Regions from separate parts of the Homo sapiens genome. Here region 2 is linked to region 1. The links come from fine-mapping of genetic effects on gene expression. A gene starts in region 1. The other region holds a variant in brackets. All regions are shown on one strand. Distances are from middle to middle.

Region 1 (2,720 bases):
TCCGTGACCCCCAACACTCAAGTATGGTGGCCCCGATGCCAGAACTCACCCAACCGCTTTCCACGCAGGAAAACAAAGGCCTACTGAGTGCAAAGGGTGGTCCCTGGATTCCGAATGGAAGCAAGTTCCGGGTTCTTCTGGGGTCTTCGGGGACCAGGCCGGGAGGCAGGAGCCCCGCTGCTCACTTCCTCCAGGCCCGCTCAGCCGGCAGGAGCTTCCTCCTCTCTGCGGCAGGGCCCGAGGGGGGTGGATGCCGTGAAAGTGAAGCTGCCACAAACCTCCAGAAAGCTCTGCCCGGAGCCCCAGCGCCCGCCGTGCCGCCTGGGCCCCCGGGGTTCTGCAGGCCACTTAAACTCAATGCTTTCATTTCTCCCCCTCTCCCCGCCTTCCCCAAACCATGCCAGTTTCCCCGCAGGCTGTTCACCTCCAAAATGGCAGCTACATAGGCCAGAGCCTGGGGTCGACCCCCGCAACCCACCACCAGCACCCTGTCAGCCTGGCCTCCACCCTCCATCCCGCACCGCCGTCCTCCCACCTCCACACCCCGCCCCGGGCCAGGCCCCTTCCTCTCCCGGGACCACGCAGGAGACTCCTACCTGGACTCTCGGCTGCAGACTTCCCCACGCCCCCTGCCCGCCCCTGAGCTGAGGCTCCCACAAGCCCTCGGAGGAGTGAGTCACTTCCTGACCCCACTCACTCAAACCCACCAACGGCACCCAATAGCTCTTAAAATAAAATCCAGGCTGTGCGTGGTCTGTCTCTCTCAATCGCGGTTACATACCCGTGTCTAGAACAATGCTTGGCACAAAGTGGGCTCAGTGAATAAATATTGGTGGTGGTTGTTGCCAAGGGGATCGGGAAGGCTTTCCAGAGGAGAATGGGGCCTTGACGGCTGCATAGGAGTTTGCAGTGGAAGAAGAAGGGGTGAGAACGTGGCAGGTGGAGAAAACAGCGTATGCAAAGGCATAGCAGGGTTCGAGAAGGAGAGATCTCAGCACAGTAGATAGAGAAACACTTCAGACCCGAGCTGGTCTCTCAAGCTGGAATCTTCACCATCCGGGCTGAAATGGTGAGTTTCCCTAGCAACAGGTGACTGGGAAGCTATCTACCCTTTCTGACAGGTTAGGCAGAAAGTGGCTAAATCAGGTGGGATGCAGGTGTAAGGAGTGTGTGAGAGCAGGAAAGTAGGGTCGTTTACAAGAAGTTAATAAAAAATGACAAAACTTAGTACTGGTATTGTTGCTAATATTTATGGAGTCATTGGTGATGAAACAAACATAATTTTAAGGGCTTTCATTTTACTGGAAACTTCCTTGTGAGGTAGGTACAATCATCACCCCCATATTACAGAGGAAGACACTGAGGCACATGAGTCAGTCCCTGCCATTCTGAAGTGCCCGTGCTAGACTGGGGCTTGTAACAGGTGGGGAGAGAAGCCACCGTGCAGGACCTATTTTGCTGGGGCGTGTGTAGCAGGCTCAGCCCAGCTCTGGACACAGTGGTTCTGGTGGTGGCTTCTGACTCTGGATCACAGCCACATAGATGTAGCAGCAGTCACAGTCCCAGCAGCAAAGAGACGGTATATTCCCATGTGCTAACTGAAGACTGTTTAATAAAGGGACAGCTGGGGCAGGGTTAAAGGAACCCAGAAGAGACAGTGCTACACCCCAGGCTAGCAACATGGGGAGCTGTTACTTCTTCAAAACCTAGAGGGTGAAGGAGGGAGTGGGTGGCAGAGCCCAGGAACAGAATCACTGAAGCTCTAAGAGGGGCCTCGGGATAGGAGCTGTGGCCTTTGGTAGAGGGACACAGCCAGCTCATGGTGAACCAGCAGAAGGGCACAGCTGGAGGAATCAATGACCAAGCCTCACTCTCCTCCCTCCTGCCAGGGCCTCCCCTGCCCACATCCAGCCAGAAGCCAGAGAAAAGAAGTCCCCTGCTGCGGCCCATAGATGTGAGGAGAGAAAATGGTGGGGAGTGGATCTGCAGAGGTGAACCTAAAGCATTCAACCCAGAAAGCATGCTTCTAGGGCCAGCCTGACTCGGCAGCTTCCTTCAGGAGCCAGCTCTGCAGTATTCTTCCAAGAGTCCTTGCTGGAGGCGCTGCCTCCAGCCTTCCAACAGCTTGAGAATCACACAGCTTCCTATGTTAGATTCCTTTCTCCTCCAAACAACTGAAGAGACTCTAATCATCGGCAACTGAATCCCAATTAACTTCGGATTTGTTACCAGAAACAATTGCAGGCAACACGACCTCCAGGATGGGAACTGGGATTGGTTACTTGTTCTGGTTGATTTAAAGGCAGTGGGGACCTAGTAACTGTTAGAGAATGGAGTTCTAATAGATCGTAGCCTGTGATGGCAAAATAATTACCTGTCATCACTCAGAACGAAGTACCTATTAAATTGTGGCTTTGGCAGAGTTGTGGCTTCCATACGCAATACGAGCACAGGTTATCTAAGGACTGTGGGGTGAGCTTGTTATCATCACACCAAAGAGTTTAAAGCAAGAAAAGGACAGTCCCAGGGCTTTACATTCTCAGCTCAAGGTATGTGCAGAATACAGGGAGTTCTCTGATAGCCCTCAAAGCTATCTCTCATCTCTTGGGGCTGCAGGGCTGATGTAAGAATCAGATGCGAAATCTAATCCTGTATGGTGTGGAGTTACAACAGACTAAATCCACAACTCACAAAGCCTCTTGTGTGTAGAGCATTGTTTA
Region 2 (3,032 bases), 33 kb before region 1:
AGTTGATGCAGCTGTTTTAGTCAAGTGCTATAGTGTTTGTTCCACCGCTACTGTAACACACACCAAATGAGTAGGAGTTCAAATATTTCTTGCTCATATACTGTTCAAAACGAGTGTTCCTGACTGGCAGGCAGCTCTCCTCCCAGGGTGACTCCGTCTGTGGCTCCAGCATCTCAGCACACGGCTTGCAATCTCACCAGGCTAGTCAGCATCACCAGAGCATCGGGGAGTACAGGAGTATCAGGTCATGCAGGGGACTGGGTTTGAGGACCAGGCTCAGCAATGTTGTGTTTTACTTGATTCACATTTTATTATTGACCACGTTGGGTTGCAAAGAAGGTGGGGCATGCAGTCCAGCTGCGTGCCCAGCAGGAAGAGCAGATGGGCTTGGTAGGTGGCCAGGCCATCTGGGCCATGGCTGCTGAAGAAAGGTGGAGATCCCAGTCAGTGCTAGCCTTGGCCATTGTTTAGCTGATAGGACTTTTCAAAACCCTGCCCACCATTATTGCAGTTCATCCTTAAGATGGATTACCATCGTGGGGGTTGAACTAAGCAGGCAGGATCATTCCATTTTACAGATGAGGAAACTCAGGTTCAAAAAGGGGTAGTGACCTGTCCAAGACTACACAGCTGCTAAGGGGCCCAGTAAGACTGGAGCCAGGACTTCCCATATCACACTCCTGCCTCTTACTCCAGACAACCGGGTAAAGGAGAGGGATCATGGAGCCAGAGGTCCTCCATTTGTCCCTGTGTTTTCAGCTGAGCTGGTGAGCCTACTGGCCCAGCACAGGGGCCAAGAAGATGGGTTCAAGTCAGAGCTAAGCCCCGCTTGAATGCTGGCATCCTGGGATGCTGGGGTGGCCAGCTGGGTGGGCTGCAAGTTGAAGCAGCAGGTCTGGATCTGACTCACCCAGGAGAGTTAAGAGGTCACGTTAGTGGGTCAGTCCACAAGTATTTACCCAGGGCTAGGTGCTGCTGTGGGTCTCCAACAAGCAAAGCCTAGAAGCAGGGACACAAAATCCAGGTAGGACTCACCTGATGAGCTGGCCTTTTAGTGCCTAACTCTGAGTGCCAAAGGCGTGCCAGGCCTCTAACCTCACGTACCTCATGTCACTGCATCCTCACTAGGACCTATGGAGGAGGGACTTCCAGCACTGTTTTTGTGCCTGTAGTGATGATGATGATAATGATGATGATGATGATGATGTGATGGTGATGATAGTGACAGCAGTGGTGATGATGGTGACAATGATGGTGATGGTGACAATGATGATGGTAGTGATGATGGTGATGATAGTGATGATGATGTGATGGTGAT[GATA/A]GTAACAGTGATGGTGATGATGGTGACAGTGGTGTGATGGTGGTGATGATGGTCATAATGATGGTGATGACGATCTGATGATGATGATGGTGACAGTGGTGGTGATGATGGTGATGTTGATGATGTGGAGGTGATGATGATGATGATGGAGGTGATGATGATGTGATGGTGATGATGGTGACAGTGGTGGTGATGATGGTGATGTTGATGATGATGGTGGTGATGATGTCATGGTGATGATGGTGACAGTGGAGGTGACGATGAGGATGATGGTGATGATGATGATGTGATGGTGATGATGGTGACAGTGGAGGTGATGATGGTGATAATGATGGAGGTGATGATGATGTGATGGTGATGATGGTGACAGTGGAGGTGATGAGGATGATAATGGTGATGATGATGCCGTGATGGTGATGATGGTGACAGTGGTGGTGATGATGGTGATAATGATGGAGGTGATGATGATGTGATAGTGATGATGGTGACAGTGGTGGTGATGGTGATGATGACACCCATGATGTCATCTGACATTTATTGAATGTTATGTGTCCAGCAAGCTTCAAGCTCTCCAGATACTCAACTTTTTAAATAGCCCTGTGAAGAATAGATTCCTTATTGCCTCCATTTGACATAGAAGGAAACTGAGGCTTAGGGAGGTAAGTGATTTGCCTGGGGTCACAGAGTGAGGTGAGGATTTGCCCAGGATTCACACCCCAGGGTCTGACTCAAGCATCACACTCTAACCACTGCACTACCCAGCCCCTTCCACCCTGGGCTACACCTCCTCTGGGATAGAGCCTCGGTCTGAGCACTCTCTTTATACCCAGCTCTGTGCCCTGGGCCTGCACACAGTAGGTGGAGAAGTTCTCTTATGAATGGTGTGTGCACTATGATTTTGTACCTTTGTAAAAACCCACCTAGGTATTAATGCATCACCTTTCTAGGTAATAATAAACCAACCCATATGAAATGCTTGTGGATAAATAAATGAATTCATGCAATTGTTGGCCAGCCCAGGTCCATTGGCTGACTCTTCTTGGAAGAATCATTTCTGGAACATCTTCATCATCTACTTTCTTACCAGCCAGGCCCCTCAGCCCAGTCCCCCATTGACCTAGGGGCCCAGGACACTCCCTGGGCTACACCCCCAGGGGGTGGGGATCCCATGTGTCTCTAGGTCCATGATGCCCCTCTGCTCACCACTGCCCAAGTCTTACAAGGAAAGAAGGCTGGTGGGGCAGGGATGGGGGTTGGGATGGCACTGGCAGCTTTGATCCATTGCCAGAAGATATGGGGGCAGGAACACACTTTTCTCTAGACAAGCTGTTCGCTTACCAGCTGACTTTGGTAAAAAGAAAAAAAAAAATCTTAGTTCCATCTGTTCCCAGAGTGGAGCTGGTGTGAGTCCTGGGGCTTCCTGCAGCTCAGGCGGCCAGACCCAGTTTCAGACTCCAAGACAGCTGCCCTCTGGATTATTTTGGGAAGCAGCTCAACTCCGAGGCACCCCAGCCTTCGAGGCATTTCCCTTCGCTTCGAAGCTGTTTGCACACCCAGCCCAAGCTGCCAGCTCCTTCTCTGGCCCTGGACGCCTTCCTGTTCAGCTTGCTATAATTATCCTGCTTCCAACTTCGGCTGCAACTTCTACTGGAGTCAGATTTCTTGGGATGGAGGAAGAGAGAAAAAGAGCGAAGGCCATGGATAGTGAAAT

What was found. PIP is the estimated chance that this variant, and not a neighbour inherited with it, causes the effect.
Region 2: its variant is the best candidate, but not a certain one, in a credible set for the expression of PARVG in whole blood (TOPMed, PIP 0.55).

What each region holds. Positions count from the first base shown.
Region 1 is chr22:44,179,247-44,181,966 of GRCh38, reverse strand. PARVG (parvin gamma) reads right to left here and starts at 1,042. Exons shown (of 14, transcript NM_022141.7): 1 at 782-1,042; 2 at 50-225. RefSeq lists enhancers at 1-324, 325-1,055 and silencers at 432-561, 1,732-1,781.
Region 2 is chr22:44,212,197-44,215,228 of GRCh38, reverse strand. No RefSeq gene overlaps it. Among named protein-coding and RNA genes, the nearest start is that of PARVG, 33 kb to the right of the region's middle. The variant GATA/A (reference allele first, on the strand shown) is at 1,319.